2 separate regions of the Homo sapiens genome follow, and region 2 is linked to region 1. Evidence: fine-mapped expression QTL. A gene starts in region 1. The other region holds a variant in brackets. All regions are shown on one strand. Distances are from middle to middle.

Region 1 (11,103 bases):
CATTGGCACGGACGTCTACCTGCGGCTCCGCCACATCGATGGCCGGGAGGAAAGCTTCCGGATCTGACCCCACAGCCTTTGGCCTGCTCACCCGACCAGCCTGGGCCGCATTCCCTGCAGGACCTCCCGGGTCAGGCAGGGCGGCCCCCTGCTCCACACACTGCTGCATCTTGGGTCTCAGGGACCCAGACAGATGGACTTACATGGAGCTGGGCACTGCCCTGCCTCAACAGGGTCCATTGCCTCCTCGCCTCCAGAACTTGGAGCAGGGAAGTGGGCACCCTGAGGCCTCCAGCACCAGTTCCGTCATTCTCGTTCCTGGGGAACCCCCACTCTGACCTGTTATTAAAGTTCACATTTTGAATGCCCTCTCGGGCCCCGTGTGTGGGGAGGGCAGGTGAACTTTTGTTTCTGCCCCCATTCAGGTTCACTGAGCCCTTGGGTTGAACTGGTTCGTGTCCCAGTCTCTTACCTGCCCTGAGAGCCTGGCAGGCCAGGAGTAGAATGGGTCCCAAGTCTGTTGCATGTTTGATTTGGTGGGAGTGGGATGACTGCAGCACCTTATACAAAGAGCTTTCATTCATCTTGTTGAACAAATGTTTCCGGGTCCCAGATAATATTGAAGGCCCAGACTGACCCAGCTTCGGGCATCAGTTTTGACTCTTCCTTTCCTGGCAGTCACAGTTTCTAGAGGTGAAGGTCACCAGACTGGGCAAACTCCTGAGCCAACTGCTTCCCAAGCCTGAGTAGGTTAAAAATACTGTGTCTGCTGCTGCCAAGGAAAAGAACATACAAGGTTGTGCCTTGGCAGGCCCTAGCAGGGACTGGGTGCCCCACTGCAAGGAAAGGTGGGGCCCTGATAGAAAGGACCAAGGATTTGGGCAAAGATATCAGGTAGGCTCAAGGTTAGACCTGAATCAGAACTCCAGATGACATCTTAGGTAGGAACACCCTACCCACCTTGCCAGGGAAGAAAGGCCTAAGGGCGGCCTGGTGGGGCTGGGAGGAGAACTGGAAAGTTCTCTTGCCTTCACATGTGAGCTCCCACAGCAAACTTCCTGAGGCTGGCTCTAGGCCTGTACCATCTCCTACCCTTCACGGGGATGGAGGGGAAGTTGTATGTGGAAGCCAAATGGCAGGGGCTAGGAAACCACAGTGACTTGCTAGACTGAAAAATCCCGCCAGCTGCAAGGCAGGGTGCTGAGGCTGGAGAGGCAGGCAGCAGTCAGAGGCCAGGGCCCTGAAACATGGGATTTATCTTGAGCCATAGGGATCCATGGGTGAGTTTTTATTTATTTAGAAATGGGGTCTTGCTCTGTTGCCCAGGCTGGAATATGGTGGCTGCAGAGTTCACTGCAGCCTTGAACTCCTGGGATCAAGAGATTCTCCCACCTCAGCCTTCTGAGTAGCTTGGACCATCATGCCAGGCTAAATTTTAAAATTTTTTGTAGAAACAGGGTTTCTACAAAGCCCTATGTTGCCCCGGGCTGGACTTGAACTTCTGGGCTCAAATGATCCTTCCACCCCAGCCTCCCAAAGTGGTGGGGTTACAGGCATGAGCCACTGCAGCTGGCCCATGAGTGGGTTTTGAGCTGGGAAGGGATGTTTCTGGTTGGAGTCCCTGAGAGGATTCATGTCCACGTGATTTCTTAAGAAAGTGCTCCCAGAACAGAGTAGGGGAAGTAGGAAGGGGAAGGGGAGGAAGCCAAGCAAGGATGTGACCTCAGGCAAAAGCCCAGAACCAGTCAATTATGCCTCAGGGTTGAAGGTAAGAGAGCTAAACCTCAGAGTTACTGATTAATTTCTCCACTTGGCAGTCACTGGTTAAAGTCAGTTGGGAAAGTGAACAGCTCTATTAACCTAAGGATGGTTTTTTAAGAAGAGCCTCAGGTGCTGGTGTGGGTCTTTGAAAGCACATCAAAGGTAATCTGGGCACACAGAAACAGCAAGAACTCCCAGAGGATCTGGGTGGAGCACCTACATTGTTTTTTTGTTTGTTTTGTTTCGTTTTGTTTTTTTAAACGGAGTCTCAATCTGTTGCTCAGGCTGGAGTGCAGTGGCTGGATCTTCGCTCACTGCAACCTCCGCCCCACCCCCCCCCAACCCCAGGTTCAAGCGATTCTCCTGCCTCAGCCTCCCGAGTAGCTGGGATTACAGGCGCGTGCCACCACACCCAGCTAATTTTTCTATTTTTAGTAGAGATGGGGTTTCACCACGTTGGCCAGGCTGGTCTCGAACTCCCAACCTCGTGATCCATCCACCTCAGCCTCCCAAAGTGCCAGGATTACAGGCATGAGCCACCATGCCTGTCGGATGTTTCTTGATTTGTAACCTCTGAGAGACCCATCCGCAGGCCCTGAGCATTCCACTCCTCTCAGAATTGTTTCCAAGCCCAATAACCACATTATAAATCAAACAAGATTCAGAGAATAGCCAAAGGGAATGTTTACTGAGTACCTACCCGGTCTGGCACTTTGCAATACACTTGTATATTGCTAAGACGGATAGTTCAACCGTTACATAGTTATATGATTGATAGTTATACATGCTTAACTGCTGGGGATTGGTTCCAGGACCGCCTGTGAATACCGAAATCTGCAGGCGCTCAAGTCCTACAGTTGGCCCTGCCAAACAGCAGATATGAAGTCAGCTCTTCAGATCTGTGGGTTCTGCATCCTTACAATATTTCCTTTCCTTTCCTTTTCTTTTCCTCCCTTCCTCCCTCTTTTTTCTTTTTCTTTTTTGAGATGGAGTCTTGTTGTGTCGGCCAGGTTGGAGTGCAGTGGCGCGATCTCGGCTCACTGCAACCTCCACCTCCTGGGTTCAAGCAGTTCTCCTGCCTCAGCCTCCCAAGTAGCTGGGATTACAGGCACACGCCACCACCCCTGACTGTTTTGTATTTTCAGTAGAGACGGGGTTTCACAATGTGGGCCAAGCTGGTTTTGAACTCCTGACCTCAAGTAATCCACCTGCTTCGGCCTCCCAAAGTGCTGGGATTACAGGTGTGAGCCACCGCGCCCAGTCTTTTTTTTTTTTTTTTTGAGGCAGAGTTTCACTCTTGTTGCCCAGGCTGGAGTGCAATGGCACAATCTCAGCTCACCACAACCTCTGCCTCCCAGGTTCAAGCGGTTCTCCTGCCTCAGCCTCCCGAGTAGCTGGGATTACAGGCATGCGGCCACCACGCCTGGCTAATTTTGTATTTTTAGTAGAGATGGGGTTTCTCCATGTTGGTCAGGCTGGTCTCGAACTCCCGACCTCAGGTGATCTGCCTGCCTCGGCCTCCCAAAGTGGTGGGATTACAGGAGTGAGCCACTGCGCCCAGCCTCCTTTTCTTTCCCCCCTTTTTTTTTGAGACAGGGTCTCTGTCACCCAAGCTGGAGTGCAGTGGAGGGATTATAGCTCACTCAGCCTCGACCTCCTGGGTTTAAGCGATCCCTCTGCCTCAGCCTCCTGAGTAGGTGGGACTACAGGTGCGGGCCCCGAGGCCCAGCTAATTTTTTTTTTCCCCCAAATTTTTAGTAGAAAGGAGGTCTCTATGCTGCCCAGGCTGGTCTTGAACTCCTGGCCTGAAGCGATCCTCCTGCTTGGATTCCTGAAGTGCGAGATTACAGGTGTGAGCCACCATACCTCAACACTGTATTTTCAACCCGCTCTTCGTTCAATCTCCAAAGGTGGGACATGCGGATATGGAGGGCCGATTGTGTATGGTTGGACCATACACATATAAATGGCTTTAACCTTTACTGACTCTCACAGAACCCTCAGTGCAGTGGCGTGATCTCAGCTCACTGCAAGCTCCACCTCCCGGGTTCACACCATTCTCCTGCCTCAGCCTCCCGAGTAGCTGGGACTACAGGGGCCCGCCACCACGCCCGGCTAATTGTTTTGTATTTTTTTTTAGTAGAGACGGAGTTTCATCGTGTTAGCCAGAATAGTCTCGATCTTCTGACCTCGTGATCCACCCGCCTAGGCCTCCCAAAGTGCTGGGATTACAGGCGTGAACCACCGCACCCGGCCTTTTTATTTTTTTTGAGATGGAGTCTGGCTCTTGGTCCCCAGGCTGGAGTGCAATGGCGGGATCTCGGCTCACTGCAACCTCCGCCTCCCGGGTTCAAGCGATTCTCCTGCCTCAGCCTCCCGAGTAGCTGGGACTACAGGTGCGTGCCACCACGCCCGGCTAAATTTTGTATTTTTAGTAGAGACGGAGTTTCACGGTGTTAGCCAGGATGGTCTCGATCTCCGCCCGCCTCGGCCTCTCAAAGTGCTGAGATTACAGGCGTGAGCCACCACGCCCCGCCCAACTCGTCCTTTCTTTAGACTTTATCCTGTGAGGGTGAATTATGGCCTGTCCCTGGACACACCCGTTCTGCTTTCCCCGCACCAACTGTATCCCAAATAGGGGAAGTAGTCTCTTCAACCTTCAAAAATGGGGCACTGGCTGGGCACGGTGGCTCACGCCTGTAACCCTAGCACTTTGGGAGGCCGAGGCGGGCGGATCACCTGAGGTCAGGAGTTCGAGACCAGCCTGGCCAACAGGGTGAAGCCCTCTCTCTACTAAAAATACAAAAAATAGCCGGGCGTGGTGGCGCGCGATTGTAATCCCAGCTATTCAGGAGGCTGAGGCAGGAGAATCGCTTGAACCCGGGAGGCGGAGGCTGCAGTGAGCCGAGATCGCGTCACTGCACTCCAGCCTGGGCGACAGAGCGAGACTCCATCTCAAAAAAAAAAAAGGGGGGGGGGCGGGGAGCGACATTAGGCCAGCGCGAGTGTGCGGCTCCAGGCCACCAGGGCGGCCGCTCTGGCTCTGCCCTGTTAAAGTGGGGGCAGCGCCCGCTGAAAATTGGCACATCTTGGCTTCCGCAGGTACCAGGGCCTTTAAAAAGGTTCAGCTGGCCGGGCACGGTGGCTCACGCCTATAATCCCAGCACTTTGGGAGGTTGAGGCTGGCAGATCACGAGGTCAAGAGATCAAGACTATCCTGGACAACATGGTGAAACCCCGTCTCTACTAAAAATACAAAAATTAGATGGGCGTGGTGGCGCGCGCCTGCAGTCCCAGCTACCCGGGAGGCTGAGGCAGAGGAATCGCTTGAACCCGGAGGCGGAGGTTGCAGTGAGCCGAGATCGCGCCTCTGCACTCCAGCCTGGGCGACAGAGCATGATTCCGTCTCAAAATAAATAAATAAATAAATAAATAAATAAATTAAAAAAAGGTTGAGTTGAGTCATCGCATGAGGTAAGTCTGTCTCCTCTCCTCACCCATAGGCTGCAGCCACAGGTCCGCACGGAAAACCAGGAGCTCCAAGACTGCCGCACACTCAACATCCAACTCGCGGGGCCGCGGGGACGGCCACAGAAGCCAATCGGCTCCTGCTACATCACAGACCCCGCCCTCAAACCTTGAGGAGCCCGCCCCACGCACTGCTGACCCGGAGCCAAAAGAACTGCGTGGCGTCCGATTCTGGCGTCACTTCCCTTCCCGCGATGGCGGCACAGGGAGCTGCTGCGGCGGTTGCGGCGGGGACTTCAGGGGTCGCGGGGGAGGGCGAGCCCGGGCCCGGGGAGAATGCGGCCGCTGAGGGGACCGCCCCATCCCCGGGCCGCGTCTCTCCGCCGACCCCGGCGCGCGGCGAGCCGGAAGTCACGGTGGAGATCGGAGAAACGTACCTGTGCCGGCGACCGGATAGCACCTGGCGTGAGGGCGGGGCCCAGGGCTGGGGGCGGGGCGGAGCTCAGGGCCAGGGGGTGGGGCGGGGCCTGAGGACAGGCTGTCAGTGAGGCCAAGATCCGGGGGCTGGGAGTGGAGAGGAGGAGGGGCGGGGCTTGAGGAAAGAACGCCGCGTTCCGGGCGCTGAGAAACCAGCCGGGTTGTGGGAGGCTGTTGACCTTGAATTATGCCGAGCGACGCCTACAAACCCACCGCTCAGGCCTTCACCAGGATTGTTCCCATTCCACTTCCTTGCCCAGTCTTAGGCTTCATTCCTTTTTCTTGCTAACGCTGCTTCCTCACCCTCTCTTGTCTCTGCGTCTTCTTTTTCCATTTGTCCCTGGCAGCCATCCGCAGAGAGAAGACCTTCCAGAAACAACAGGCTTCCCTTTCCTAAAGTTCTGCTGCCTTCTCTCATTTTCAAAATTAACCCCAAACTCCTTAGGGTGGCATTCATTTTTGTGACCTCTCCAGTTTCTAGCCAACACTAGGAAAGGGCATTGCCAGGCCAGAACACACTGTGCCCTCTGAAGACCACACGCCCTTTACCACCTGTGCCCTTTGCTTGGAATGCTTTTTCTTCCCTTTCTCCTTGTTTGCCTGCCTAGCTCCTACTCATCCTCTTAGCTTCATATCCTTTGTGATGTCATCCTTGATTCCCCTTCAGGCAAAGTGAGTGGTTCCCTTCTCTATGTTCCTGCAACATTTTTTTCCTACCTCAGTCATAGTTTTTGTAACATTATGTTGTAATTTTCTCTCTCTGTCTTCCTCCATCATACTGGGAACTTCTGGAGGGCAGCACTTCTTGTGATTCATCACTGTGTCCTCTGTACCCGGCAACAACACAGCATAGGGCCAGACACGTAGTGGTTGCCTTACTCATTTATTGAATGCTCTGCTAATTGTCAGGTGCGCTGCTAAAAATTTTGGAGGCATTAATTCACCTTCTAAGGTTGGTACTATTATCCCTTTTGTCTTTTTTTTTTTTTTTTTTTTTGAGACAGGATCTCGCTCTGTCACCCAGGTGGGATTGCCGTGGCACGATGACAGCTCACTGAAGCCTAGACCTTCTAGGCTCAAGTGATCCTCCCACCTCACCCTCTCAGAGTGTTGGGATTACTGGCATGAGCCACTGTGCCCAGCTGTTATCCCTTTTCACAGATGAAGAGACTGAGGCTCAGAAAGATGGAATAACTTGCTCAGTTACACATAGCTAGGAAGTAGGGAGCTGGAATTTTGTGTATTTTTTTTTGTTTGTTTGTTTGAGATGGAATCGCTCTCTGTTGCCAGGCTGGAGTGCAGTGGCGCCATCTTGGCTCACTGCGATCTCTGCCTCCCGGATTCAAGCGATTCTCCTGCCTCAACCTCCTGAGTAGCTGGGACTACAGTTGTGCGCCACCACACCCAGCTAATTTTTGTATTTTTAGTAGAGACGAAGTTTCACCATGTTGGCCAGGATGGTTTTGACCTCTTAACCTCGTGATTCACCCACCTCGGCCTCCCAAAGTGCTGGGATTACAGGCGTGAGCCACGATGCCCAGCCCTGGAATTATACATTAATGTAGGTTATCTTAATCCAGAGCCAGCACTCATGATCCCTGAACAAATGAACAACTGCGGGTATGTGGTAAAATGAGCATTGAATTTAGAGTCAGACTTAAATTCAGTTAAGTATTAGCTCTTACCACTTTTCAAATCTGTGACCCTAGGTAAGCCTCAGTTTTGTTCTGTTTTTTGGGGTTCTTTTTTTTGAGACAGAGTCTTGCTCTTGTCACCCAGGCCACAGTGCAGTGGTACAATCTCGGCTCACTGCAACCTCTGCCTCCCGGGTTCAAGCAATTCTCCTGCCTCAGCCTTGCCTCCCAGGTTCAAGCAATTTTCCTGCCTCAGCCTCCCGAGTAGTTGGGATTACAGGTGTGTGCCACCATGCCTGGCTTTTTTTTTTTTCGTCTTTTTGGTACAGATGGGGTTTTGCCATGTTGACCAGGCTGGTCTCAAACTCCTGGCCTCAAGTGATCTGCCCATCTCGGCCTCCAGAAGTACTGGGATTACAGGTGTGAGCCACACACCCAGCCAGTTATTTTCTCATTCGTAAAATGAGAATAACAGCCTCAACCTGATCCACCTCACAGTTGTGGCAGTGATTGAGTAGAATGGCAGAGGTGGACCAGTGAGGTTAGCTGATGTGTGGCCCTGAACTCTGGAAACTGCTTCTCAGTGTGCAGGATTCCTTTTGTTCCAGCCTTACCTTCCTGATGACCCTAGCCTTTTTCCATCACAGATTCTGCTGAAGTGATCCAGTCTCGAGTGAACGACCAGGAGGGCCGAGAGGAATTCTATGTACACTACGTGGGCTGTGAGTGGCTTGGCACATCTGGGCGTGGGTGCAGGGAGTTGGCTGCCCTGGCAGCACTCTTATGGCCCATACTTACAGTTAACCGGCGGCTGGACGAGTGGGTAGACAAGAACCGGCTGGCGCTGACCAAGACAGTGAAGGATGCTGTACAGAAGAACTCAGAGAAGTACCTGAGCGAGCTCGCAGAGCAGCCTGAGCGCAAGATCACTCGCAACCAAAAGCGCAAGCATGATGAGATCAACCATGTGCAGAAGGTCCGGATCCCTTCCCATCCACGGGCCCAGGAGGCCCAGCTTCTCTGCCAGTTCCCTTGGGTCTCTCGGGCCCCAGTGCCAAAACCATAGCAAATCCCATTTCTTAAGCTCCTGTAGTGTGTCAGGGACTTTACCTACTTCCTCTTACTTACTTTTCATAGGTAAGAAAACAGACAGAGGGTAAGGGCTTCGCTGCAGTCTCACAGCAAGGAAATGGCACAGCTGGGACTAGAACTCAGGCCTCCGGCACTGGTAGCCTCTTTTGTCTCCTAGTAGCTGTGTCTTAGTAGAAAAAATGACTTGAAGTTCAGTGGGAAAGACGAGAATGTTATTCGGCAGTTGCTATAGCCAAGCACCCTGCCAAGTGCTGTATATGTATAAGCTCCTCAAATCCTTCCCAACAATTCAACACACAGGAATAGTTACTTTTTTGGTAGGTGAGGAAGCAGGCTGAGAGAGATTAAGTAACATGCCCAAGGTCACACAGCCAGTAAAACGGTGGGCTGGAATTAGAATAATAATGCCAAACACTTGTTAGCCGGTGAGCAGAAGTATTCAGCTAAATGGTTTTTGTGTGTGTGTGTGTGTGTGTGTGTGTGTGTTTTGTTTTTTGTTTTTTTTTTTGAGACGGAGTCTTGCTCTGTCGCCCAGGTTGGAGTACAGTGGAATGATCTCGGCTCACTGTAAACTCCGCCACCTGGGTTCAAGCAATTTTCCTGTCTCAGCCTCCCAAGTAGCTAGGACTACAGGTACCTGCCACCACGCCCGGATAATTTTTGTATTTTTAGTAGAGACGAGGTTTCGCCATATTGGTCAGGCTGGTCTCGAACTCCTGACCTCAGGTGATCTGCCCACCTCGGCCTCCCAAAGTGCTGGGATTACAGGCGTGAGCTACTGCGCCCGGCCTAAGCTAAGTGTTTTAATACATGACCTCACTGACATTTCACAGTAGGCCTGTGAAGTAAGCATGCAGAAGAGCTACAGATAAGTTTAGGGACCCAGACAGGAATTTGATCAACCAGCTAAATTGTGCTACCTCAGAGCCAGAGGCCTTAGCAATGATTTTGGTTTTTTTCTTAAGAGACGGGAGTCTTGGTGTGTTGCTCAGGCTGGACTTGAACTCCTGGGCTCAAATGTTCTTCCTGCCTTAGCCTTCTAAGTAGCTGGGACTACAGGAGTGCATCCCTGTACCTGCCTTGGTTTTTTCTTGTATTGATACTTAATAATTGTACATATTATTGTTATTTTTTTTTTTTGAGACAGCGTCTTACTCTATCGTCTAGGCTGAGTGCAGTGGCACAATCATGGCTCACTTCAGCCTCAACCTCCTGGGCTCAAGCAATCCTCCTGCCTCAGCCTCCTGAGTAGCTGGGACCATAGGCACGTGCCACCATGCCCAGCTAATTTTTTATTTTTTTGTAGAGACGGGATCTGCTATGTTGCCCACACTAGTCTCAAACTCCTGGTCTCAAGCGATCCTCCTGCCTTAGCCTCCCAAAGTGCTGGGATTACAGGTGTGAGCCACTGCGCCCGACCAAGTCTCAGTTTCTAAATTTATAAAAATCAGGAGTGCACACCAGAGCAAGATTTGTCAAAGTCTCCAGACACCCAGACATTTGTTACTTTCAGCTATTGCAGCTTCATCCTTCTGAGTACATGAGTTAGTGGGCAAGCCCAACATTTAAATTTCTTTAAATGGAAGAAAGAAAGTGGATAAGATAGAAAAATCAGGGTGTTGCACTTTATTAAGTGTAGGTATTGTTTTGAGAAGCTTTTATTTCACACCCAATAAAAGTGTGCAGGATTCCTCTTGTTCCAGCCTTACCTTCCCGATGATCCTAGCACATACTTGTGTGTATATACAGACATGTTACAGTGCCAAGTGTACTTCCTACTGTGGTGTGATTTAAAAAATTGAAATACCCTAAACTGGAAGAACTCCTCAAGGTCTAAACTGCCGAATCGAACTTCCTATTGTAATGGAAATGTTCTATAGCTGTACTATCTAGTACCGTAGCCACTAGCCACATGTAGCTGTTGAGCACTTGAAATGTGTCTAGTGTGACGAAGAATTAAGAATTTTAGCTGGGCGCGGTGGCTTACGCCTGTAATCCCAGCACTTTGGGAGGCCAAGGTGGGTGGATCACCAGGTCAGAAGATCGAGACCATCCCGGCTAACATGGTGAAACCCCATCTCTACTGAAAAATACAAAATAATTAGCCGGGCGTGGTGGCGTGCACCTGTAGTCCCAGCTACTCGGGAGGCTGAGGTAGGAGAATGGCGTGAACCCGGGAGGTGGAGCTTGTAGTGAGCCGAGATCCTGGGCTCACTCCAGCCTGGGTGACAGAGTGAGACTCCGTCTCAAAAAAAAAAAAATTTTTAAATTATGGGTGCAGTGGCTCACGCCTGTAATCCCAACACTTTGGGAGGCGGAGGTGGGTGGATCACTTAAGGTCAGGGGATTGAGACCAGCCTGGCCAACATGGCCAAAACCCCATCTCTACTAAAAATACAAAAATTAGCCGGGCGTGGTGGTGCACACCTGTAATCCCGGCTACTTAGGAGGCTGAGGCAGGAGAATCGCTTGAGCCCAGGAGATGGAGGTTGCAGTCAGCCAAGATCATGCCACTGCACTCCATCCAGCCTGGGTGTCCGATCAAGACTGTCTCAAAAAAAAATTAATTATCATTTTTTAAAAAAATTTTATTTTTATTTTTTCGAGACAGAGTCTCACTCTGTTAACCAGGCTGGAGTGCAGTGGTGCGATCTCAGCTCACTGCAACCTC
Region 2 (11,103 bases), 41 kb after region 1:
TCGGCCTCCCAAAGTGCTGGGATTACAGGCATGAGCCACCGTGCCCAGCCAAGACAATGATTCTTAACCCTTTCCCCAACCCAGCAGACATGAGGAGTAGGACTTGCTCTGCTAAATAGCACAGACGTTGGCCAGGCGCGGTGGCTCACGCCTGTAATCCTAGCAGTTTGGGAGGCCGAGGCAGGTGTATCACCTCAGGTGAGGAGTTCGAGACCAGCCTGGCCAACATGGTGAAATCCCGTCTCTACTAAAAATACAAAAAATTAGCCGGGTGTGGTGGTGGATGCCTGTAATCCCAGCCACTTGGGAGGCTGAGGCAGGAGAATCGCTTGAACCCGGGAGGCAGAGGTTGCAGTGAGCTGAGATTGCACCATTACACTCCAGCCTGGGCAACAAGAGCAAAACTCCATCTCAAAAATAAATAGATAAATAAATAAATAAGTATAAAAAAATAAATAGCACAGAGGCTCGCCAAAGCAATGGATCTTATGGGAGGAAGGAGAACATTTTCTTGTAGGGAGACAGATTGGAATTTCTGGAGGAGCAAGTGCAGTTTGCAAAAGCTGCCCAGGTGATTCTTATGGTTTCACCACTCTAAGATGCCCTTGATTGCAACTAGCAGCCAAGGTAAGGAGGGAAGCTCAAGCAGGAGTCTCTCTCTTCCAGGTTCAAGGACAGAAAATAAATTTCTCCTTGGAGGAGCCAGGTGTGCCGGTGCATGCCTGTAGTCCCTGCTACTCTGGAGGCTGAGGTGGGGGGATCCCTTGGGCCCAGGAGTTCGAGTCCATTCTGGTTGGGAGATCATGTCTCTTTACTTGGGTATAATAAAATCTTTCTTAACAACATCATGTGAAAAACAGCAAATAGTTTCATGAGGTTTTTTTTTTTTTTTTTTTTTTTTTTTTGAGATGATGTTTCGCTCTTTTTGCCCAGGTTGGAGTGCAATGGCATGATCACGGCTCACTGCAACCTCCACCTCCCAGGTTTAAGTGATTCTCCTGCCTCAGCCTCCCGGGTAGCTGGGATTACAGGAGCCCACCACCATGCCCTGCTAATTTTGTATTTTTAGTGGAGACGGGTTTCCACCATGTTGGCCAGGCTGGTCTCAAATTCCTGACCTAAGGTGATCTGCGTGCCTTGGCCTCACAAAGTGCTGGGATTACAAGCATGAACCACCATGCCCAGCCTTTTTTTTTTTTTAGAGATGGAGACTCACTCTGTCACCCAGGCTGGAGTGCAGTGGCATGGTCATAGCTCACTGCAGCCTCGAGCTCCTGGGCTCAATCGATTCTCCCATGTCAGTCTCCTGAGTAGCTGGGACTCCAGGCATGTGTCACCATGCCTAAGGTTGATTTTTATAGTGCTGCTTAATTTCAGCCTATGACACCATAAACAAACCACAGTCAATAAAATAAGGATATGTGGGTGGTGCCTCTGGGTAAGAAAGGTGATACATACGCAGTTCTCTACTGGTCTGACTAGTGGAGGGGGAAATGATAGGTGAACTAGTATATTAGTTTTCCATTGCTGATGTAACAAATTCCCATATACTCAGTGGATTAAAACAATACCAACTTATTATGTTACAATTTCAAAGATTAGAAGTCTGGCACGGGGCCGGGTGTGGTGGCTCACGTCTGTAATCCATCCCAGCACTTTGGGAGGCTGAGGTGGGCAGATCACTTGAGGTCAGGAGTTCGAGACCAGCCTCGCCAACACAGTGAAACCCCGTCTCTACTAAAATTACAAAACTTAGGCACGTCTCTACTAAAAATACAAAAAATTAGCCGGGCATGGTGGCAGGCGCCTGTAATCTCAGCTACTCGGGAGGCTGAGGCAGGAGAATCGCTTGAACCTGGGAGGCGGAGGTTGCAATGAGCTGAGATCACACCACTGCACTGCAGCTTGGGCGACAGAGTGAGACTCCGTCTCAAAAAAAAAAAAAAAAAAAAAGACCAGGCGCAGTGGCTCATGCCTTGTAATCCCAGCACTTTGGGAGGCTGAGGCGAGAGCATCACTTGAGCTCAGGAGCTTGAGACCAGCCTGGAAAACATAGTGAAAACTTCATCTCTATTCCTAAAAATAAAAATTAAGAAAAGATAACTGGCAGAATAGACGAAAGCTAAACATATGCCTGTATTTTGACCCAACAATCAAGATCCTAGGTATAGACCTAAGAGAAATGAGGGTGCCATAAGGCATATGCAGAGCATGGCACTCATAGAAGGTCTAGATACAAGAGCCAAGATCCAGAACATAAATGTCCGGCCCCAGGAAAATTGATAAATTGTGGCATAGTCATACACTGAAATACTATGCAGCAATAAAAAAGAATGAATTACTGATATCTGCAACAACATGGATGAATCTTACAGATTTTTTTTTCAACAAATATGTGTCATATTGCATGATTCCAATTATATGCAATTTAGGAACAAGCATAACTAATCCCCAGTGGTAGAAGTCAGAATAGTGGCCGGACACGGTGGCTCACACCTGTAATCCCAGCACTTTGGGAGGCTGAGGCAGGCGGATCACTTGAGGTCAGGAGTTCAAGACCAGCCTAGCCAACACAGTGAAACCCTGTCTCTACTAAAACACAAAAATTAGCCGGGTGTGGTGGCACATGCCTGTAATCCCAGCTACTCAGGAAGCTGAAGCAGAAGAATCGCTTGAACCTGGGAAGCGGAGGTTGCAGTGAGCCGAGATAGCACCACTGCACTCCAGCCTGGGTGACAGAGCAAGATTCCATCTCAAAAAAAAAAAAAAAAAAAAAAAGGAATCAGAATAGTGGTTGCTTCTGGTGGAAGTATTATATTATGTGGGAAGGAGCACAGAGAAACTTGCTAGAGTGCAAGAAAGTTCTAGATCTTGATGTAGGTGTGTATATACACAGGAATATACACATGCAGAGTTTCACTGAGCCGTACCCTTAAGATCAGGACTCTCTATGAACTTAGCTAGAGATGCTGAGGTGGGAGGATCTCTTGAGCCCAGGAGTTTTGAGACTAGCTTGGGCAGCATAATGAGACCCCATCTCTAAAAAAAAAAAAAAAAAAAAAAGTTTACACCTGTATCCCAGCACTTTGTGGGGCCAAGGCGGGTATATCCCCTGAGGTTGGGAGTTCAAGACCAACCTGACCAACACAGTGAAACCCTGTCTCTACTAAAAAAAAAAAAAAAATACAAAATTAGCTGGGCATGGTGGTGCATGACTATAATCCCAGCTACCTGGGAGGCTGAAACAGGAGAATCACTTGAATCCAGGAGGCAGAGGTTGCAGTGAGCTGAGATCGTGCCATTACACTCCGGCCTGGACAACAAGAGCAAAACTCCGTCCCCAAAATAAATAAAATAAAATAAAAATTAGCCAGGCATGGTGGCATGCACCTGTAGTCCCAGCTACTCGGGCTGAGGTAGAAGGTTCACTTAAGCCCAGGAGGTCGAGGCTGCAACGAGCTATGATTGCACCACTACACTCCAGCCTGGGTGACAGAGCGAGACTCTGTCTCAAAAAAGAAAAAAAAAAAAAAAAGAAAAGAAAAGAAAGAAAGAAGGAAAGAAAAAAAAAACTATATGGTTATTCCACATGAGTAAAAAGAAATTAAAAGAGGCAAAACACACTTTGCAAATAAATGGATTCCAGAGTCAATTAAGAAAAAGCCAAACGAACTAGCTCCAGAAATGCTTTCCTGGACCAAAAACGTTGGGAAAATGTGCAGCTTTACATCCGATAACACCAGGGCATGTGTGTAATGTTGTTTCTGAAAGCTTAGCTAAAATAATGAAACCCTTCAGCATTTGGAAAAACAAGAAAAGCATGCTTAACCAAAGATGTTGATATTATGTTTCCTGATAAAAGAGATCATGTTTTTTAAAGGATTTTGGTAACAGGTTACTTTTTTTCTGAATTGGCTTTGTCACTAAAATGTCTGGTTATCACTGACCTACAAAAAAAGGCATTCTTCAGATAATCCTTGATAGTATTGTTGCTCTCACCACACTTTCCAAAGGTGCTGACCAGAGGGAGCAGAAGACTGTTTCACAGCTCAAGCACACAGCCGCACGCGCTCCACACCAGCGAAGCCCAGCAGTGCCGCATCTCATCGTGAAAAGAGGAAGCCAGAAGCTGGGAGTCACTCCACTTCTGGTCAGGGCTGTTCTGTGGAATATACTGTGGGCAGGGCCACATGTCTCCTCGAAAAATAATCTGGGCTGTCTGTCCTCATGCACACCAGAATGGGTGCCATGACAGAGAAAGCTGCATTTTATTTTCATTTTTTATTTGAGACGGAGTCTCACTCTGTTGCTCAGGCTGGGGTGCAGTGGTGCAATCTCCACTCACTGCAGCCTTTGCCTCCTGGGTTCAAGTGATTCTCCTGCCTCAGCCTCCCAAGTAGCTCGAATTACAAGTGCCCACCATCATGCCCAGCGAATTTTTGTATTTTTAGTAGAGACAGGGTTTCATCATGTTGGCCAGGCTAATCTTGAACTCCTGACCTCAAGTGATCCACCCGTCTCAGTCTCTTAAAGTGTTGGGATTACAGGCGTGAGCGCAGCCACTGCAAACATTTGGTTTGTAAAACTCTTTTTTTTTTTGAGACGGAGTTTTGCTTTTGTCCCCCAGGCTGGAGTGCAGTGTTGCGATCTCAGCTTACTGCAACCTCTGCCTCCCGGGTTCAAGTGATTCTCCTGCCTCAGCCTCCTGAGTAGCTAGGATTACAGGTGTCCACCACCATGCCCGGCTAATTTTTTTGTATTTTTAATAGCGATGGGGTTTCGCCATGTTGGGCAGGCTGGTCTCCAACTCCTGACCTCAGGTGATCTGTCCGCCTCAGCCTCCCAAAGTGCTGGGATTATAGGCGTGAGCCACCACACCCAGCTGGTGTATAAAACTCTTAAAGCACGTGTCACTCCTTTTGGAGTGCCTGCTAAAATACAGAATACTTAGCTCAGTCTGAATTTGAGATAAACGATTTTTTTTTTTTTTACTATAACTAGGTCTCAGGAAATACTTGAGTTATATTGAAAATTATTTGTCGGGCCAAGTGAAGTGGCTCACACCTGTAATCCCAGCACTTTGGGAGGCTGAGGCAGGTGGACTGCTTGAGCTCAGGAGTTTAAGATCAGCCTGGGCAATATAGTGAGACCCCATCTCTACAAAGAGTTTTTTAAAAAATTAGCTGGATGTGGGCCAGGCGTGGTGGCTCAAGCCTGTGGTCCCAGCACTTTGGGAGGCTGAGGCGGGCGGATCACGAGGTCAGGAGATTGAGACCATCCTGGCTAACACAGTGAAACCCCGTCTCTGCTAAAAAGAAAATACAAAAAAATTAGCCGGGCATGGTGGCGGGCACCTGTAGTCCCAGTTACTCGGGAGGCTGAGGCAGGAGAATGTCGCGAACCCAGGAGGCAGAGCTTGCAGTGAGCTGAGATAGCGCCCCTGCATTCCAGCCTGGGTGACAGAGCGAGACTCCGTCTCAAAAAAAAAAAAAAATAGCTGGATGTGGTGGTGTGCACTTGGGAGCTACTTGGGAGGCTGAGGTGGGAGGATGGCTTGAGCCCAGGAGGCAGAGGTTGCAGTGAGCCATGCCACTGCACTCCTGCCTGGGCAACAGAACCAGACCCTATCTCAAAAAAAAATTATTTGTGTTTCCAATAGGCACAGGGCTCACGTCTGTAATCCCAGTGGTCTGGGAGGCTGAGGCAGGAGGATCACTTGAGACCAGGAGTTCGAAACTGCAGTGAGCTATGATTGCACCATTGCATTCCAGCCTGGGTGACAGAGCAAGACCCTGTCTTAAAAAAAAATTATTTGTGTTTACCTGAAATTCAGATTTAATCGGGCACTTATTTTATTTGCTAAATCTGGTTGGGAGTGGTGGCTCATGCCTATAATCCCAGCACTTCAGGAGGCTGAGGTGTGAGGATTACTTGAGTCTAGGAGTTCGAGACCAGCCTGGGCAACGTAACATAGACCCCGTTTGTACAAAATTTTTTTGTAAAATAAAAAAGGAGTAAAATAAAATTTTTTGCTAAACCTGGCAACCCTGTTCCCTATTCCATAATATTATCTTGCTAAGTCACTATATTGTTGCATATCTGCTTGGAAGAAATAACTTTTTTTTTTTTTGAGACGGAGTTTTGCTCTTGTTGCCCAGGCTAGAGTGCAATGGCACGATCTTGGCTCACTGCAACCTCCACCTCCTGGGTTCAAGTGATTTTCCTGCCTCAGCCTCCCCAGTAGCTGGGATTACAGGTGTATACCACCACTCCCAGCTAATTTTGTATTTTTACAATTTTGTATTCTGGAGTATTTTAAATACGATAGAGTATTGTATTTTAAATACAAAATTGTATTTTACAATTTTGTATTTTAGAGACGGGGTTTCACCCTGTTGGCCAGGCTGGTCTTGAACTCCTGACCTCAGGAGATCTGCCCGCCTTGGCCTCCCAAAGTGTTGGGATTACAAACATGAGCCACTTCGCCTGGCCAGAAATAACTTGTTCTCAGAAAAAACTTGGAGTTAGAATGTTATTCTATGAGGGACCCTCTGAGTGGGAATATTTGAGAGACTTGATAAAATTGGGAACATGTTGTGTGTTGACTCCACGCTTGACTGATATGATCAAGACATCCCCTTGGTGCT[C/T]CCTCTCGTGGCAAGAAGAGTAACTGCTCCTTCAATTTCACTCCCAGACTCTGCCCCCACCTCCCCACCCACCTCTTGGTCTCCAGGGACCATGCTGGTACCCTGAGCCTGTCGGAGCCAGAGATTGCCCCAGGACTCAGCGCTTTAGCCTCAAATGAGTTGCCCTACTTCAAAGGGACCTCACTTTGTGAGATGCACTGTATAGAATTTTTTTTTTTTTTTGAGATGGAGTCTCGCTGTGTCGCCCAGGCTGGAGTGCAATGGCATGATCTCAGCTCACCGCAACCTCTGCCTCCCGGGTTCAAGTGATTCTTGCCCCAGCCTCCCGAGTAGCTGGGATTACAGGCATGTGCCACCACGCCCAGCTAATTTTGTATTTTTTAGCAGAGACAGGGGTTCTCCATGTTGGCCAGGTTGGTCTCGAACTCCCAACCTCAGGTGATCCGCCCACCTTGGCCTCCCAAAGCGCTGGGATTACAGGTGTGAGCCACCGTGCCTGGCCCTAATTTTTGTATTTTTAGTAGAGACGGGGTTTCACTATGTTGGCCAGGCTGGTCTTGAACTATTGAGCTCAGGTTATCCACCTGCCTCAGCCTCCCAAAGTGCTGGGATGACAGGCATGAGCCACCGTGCCTGGCCATTGTATGCAATTTGGAGGGTGGTTCCTGAGACACAGAGAGAACAATCCGAGTTGGAGTCTGAGGAGGTGGCAGCTCATTGCTGGGAGAGAGACGTCCTCCTGCTTCTGAGGGGAGCAGTTTTGGGGTGCTCCTGCATAAACTGTATGGGGTCCGGGAGAGCTCTTGGGGGCAAGAGAGGAGGTCAGGATGGGATGGGGGTGAGGGCGAGGTTTTTGAGTCATGGCTGGAGGCAACAAGGCTTATGGCCCTGACTTGGAGGCCTGAGCACAGCGAGCTTTCTGAACCCCTCTGGAAAACAAAGGAGGTGGGGTGTTGCAGGACCTCAGGTACTCAAGCTGAGCAGCCATTTCTCCTGCAGGTTGTTTGTATTTTCTGAATTCTGAACATCTGAAACGAGAATGCGTATGAGAGGGGAAGCTGTTTAGATAATGAAAACCCATTGAGATTAGTTTAATCAAACACACAGGGACACGGACAGGCGTGGTGGCTCACGCCTGTAATCCCAACAGTTTGGGAGGCTGAGGTGGGTGATCATCTGAGGTCAGGAGTTTGAAACCAGACTGGCCAATATGGTGAAACCCTGTCTCTACTTAAAAAAAAGTACAAAAAATTAGCAGGGAGTGGTGGCTCACGCCTGTAATCCCAGCACTTTGGGAGGCCGAGGCGGGTGGATTGCCTGAGGTCTGGAGTTCAAGAGCAGCCTGGCCAACATAGTGAAACACCATCTCTTCTAAAAATACAAAAAATTAGCTGGGAGTGGTGGCGGGCACCTGTGATCCCAGCTACTAAGGAGGCTGAGACAGGAGAATCGCTTGAACCCAGGAGGCAGAAGTTGCAGTGAGCCAAGATCGCGCCATTGCACTCCAGCCTGGGCAACAAGAGTGAAACTCCGGGCTAGATGAGGTGGCTCACGCCTGTAATCCCAGCACTTTGGGAGGCCAAGGTGGGCAAATCATGAGGTCAGGAGGTCGAGACCAGCCTGGCCAACATGGTGAAACCCCCTTTCTACTAAAAATACAAAAAATTAGCTGGGTGTTTGGTAGTGGCAGGCGCCTGTAATCCCAGGCTGAGGCAGGAGAACTGCTTGAACCTGGGAGGTGGAGGTTGCAGTGAGCTGAGATTGTGCCACTGCACTCCAGCCCTGGTAACAGAGTAAGACTCTGTCTCAGAAAAAAAAAAAAAAGAAAAGAAAAAGAAAAAAAAATTAGCCAGGTGTGGTTGCAGGCACCTGTAATCCCAGCTACTCGGGAGGCTAGGCAGGATAATCGCTTGAACCTGGGAGGCGGAGGTTGCAGGGAGCCGAGATCGCGCCACTGCACTCCAGCCTGAGCAACAAGAGTGAAACTCAATCTCAAAAAAAGAAAAAAAAGTGTTTGTCCCTGCTTAAAAGTCTCTGTGGCGGCTCTAGGCTCTTATAATAAACTCAAGCTCTCCTTGGTCGCTGCTCACTGTCCCGGTCCCCGCCTGCTCCCTGTGTTCCTTGTTGCCATGCCTCAGAAAATTGAGGAAATCAAGGTCTTTCTGCTCACAGCCCGACAAAAGGATGCCAAATCTGTCAAGATCAAGAAAAATAAGGACAATGCGCCGGGCACGGTGGATCATGCCTGTAATCCCAGCACTTTGGGAGGTCTAGGCGGGTGGATCACGAGGTCAGCAGTTCAAGACCAGCCTGACCAACATGGTGAAACCCCGTCTCTACTAAAAATACAAAAAATTAGCTGGACATGGTGGCGGGCACCTGTAATCCCAGCGACTTGGGAGGCTGAGGTAGAAGAATCGCTTGAAACTGGAAGGCGGAGGTTGCAGTGAGCCGAGATTGCACCACTGCACTCTAGCCTGGGCAATAAGAGCAAAACTCTGTCTCAAAATAAAAAAAAGAAAAAAAAGAAAAAAAAAGAAAAATAAGGACAATGTGAAGTTTAAAGTTCGATGCAGCAGATACCTTTATACCCTGGTCATCATTGACAAAGAGAAGGCAGAGAAATTGAAGCAGTCCCTGGCCACCATGCCTGGCTAATTTTGTATTTTCAGTAATTCTGTATTTTAGTAATGTAGTATTTCGTATTTTAGTAATTTTGTATTTTAGCCTCCAGAGTAGCTGGGACTACTTGGATGCCACCACGCCCAGCTAGGTTTTTACATTTTTTGTAGAGATGGGGGTCTTGCTATGTTGCTGAGGCTGGTCTTGAACTCCTGGCCTCAAGGAATCCTCCCACCTTTGCCTCCTGAAGTGTTGGGATTACAGGCGTGAGCCACTGCTTCCAGCCATTGGTAAATTTCGCACAATTTTTGTACTGGCCCAGAGAGTTTTGCATATCGTCAGCCACAGAAAAAGTAGCAAGTAACAATTATGTTACACAAACAGCCACATAATTGTCCCTGGTAGACTAAAGTAAACCATATCTGTTTCTCCAATTTTACACTCTTTCATGGTTAGGTTTTTTGGCGATCCGATAATGTGTTTCTTCTTCTGCCACCACGGAGAAAAAACACATATTCACCTAAAAATACTAAAGTCAAATTTACTAATAAAAATGTCTTCCTATTTCGATACGCATCATCAGGTTAAAAAACCCTCTGAGGCTGGGCGCAGTGGCTCACGCCTGTAATCGCAGCACTTTGGGAGGCTGAGGGGGGCGGATCACCTGAGGTCAAGAGTTTGAGACCAGCCTGACCAACATGGAGAAACCCTATCTCTACTAAAAATACAAAAGTAGCTGCGTGTGGCGGTGCATGCCTGTAATCCCAGCTACTTGGGAGGCTGAGGCAGGAGAATCGCTTGAACCCAGGAGGCAGAGTTTGCAGTGAGCCGAGATCGTGCCATTGCACTCCAGCCTGAGCAACAAGAACGAAAACTCTGTCTTAAAAAAAAAGAAAAACAGCTGGGCGCGGTGGCTCACACCTGTAATCCCAGCACTTTGGAAGGCCGAGGTGGGTGGATCACGAGGTCAGGAGTTTGAGACCAGCCTGGCCAACATGGTGAAAACCCGTCTCTACTAAAAATACAAAAATTAGCCAAGCGTGGTGGCGCATGCCTGTAATCCCAGCTACTCAGGAGGCTGAGGCAGGAGAATTGAGGCTTGAACCTGGGAGGTGGAGGTTGCTGTGAGCTGAGATCACCCCACTGCACTCCAGCCTGGGCAACAGAGGGAGACTCCGTGTCAAAAAACAAAACAAACAAAAAAAAACAACAAAACAACCTAAAAAACCCTCTGAGGCTGGGCGTGGTGTCTCATGCCTGTAATCCCAGCACTTCAGGAGGCTGATGCATGAGGATTGCTTGAGTCTGGGAGTTCCAGACCAGCCTGGGCAACACAGCAAGACCGTCTCTATAAAACAAACAAACAGACCCCTTCTCAAATGAGAAGGAAATCTTCCAGCTTTATTACATAATGTTTTCCCACAGCCTTTTTATTTTAATTATTATTTTTAAAATCGGGGGCAAGATGGTCTCACTATGTTGCCCAGGCTCATCTCCAAGTCCTGGGCTCAAGCCATCCTCCCACCTCAGCTTTCTAATTTGCTGGGATTACAGGCATGCACCACCATGCTCAGCATCTTGTTAATTTTTTTTTTTTTTTGAGATGGAGTTTCACTCATTGCCCAGGCTGGCGTGCAATGGAGCATTCTCAGCTCACTGAAACCTCTGCCTCCAGGGTTCAAGCGATTCTCCTGCCTCAGCCTCCTGAGGAGCTGGGATTACAAGCACCTGCCACCACACATGGCTAATTTTTTTGTATTTTTAGTAGAGACGGGGCTTCACCATGTTGGCCAGGTTGGTCTCGAACTCCCGACCTCAGGTGATCCGCCTGCCT

Evidence for each region.
Region 2: its variant is fine-mapped to the expression of KAT8 in whole blood (TOPMed, PIP 0.96).

Annotation. Positions count from the first base shown.
Region 1 is chr16:31,112,199-31,123,301 of GRCh38, forward strand. It overlaps KAT8 (lysine acetyltransferase 8), which reads left to right and starts at 5,466. Exons shown (of 11, transcript NM_032188.3): 1 at 5,466-5,694; 2 at 7,988-8,062; 3 at 8,141-8,316. The coding sequence starts at 5,484. BCKDK (branched chain keto acid dehydrogenase kinase) reads left to right here. Exons shown (of 12, transcript NM_005881.4): 12 at 1-593. The coding sequence ends at 67. RefSeq lists silencers at 5,284-5,510, 5,410-5,759 and an enhancer at 5,930-6,049.
Region 2 is chr16:31,153,206-31,164,308 of GRCh38, forward strand. No RefSeq gene overlaps it. Among named protein-coding and RNA genes, the nearest start is that of PRSS36, 8.7 kb to the left of the region's middle. The variant C/T (reference allele first, on the strand shown) is at 6,648.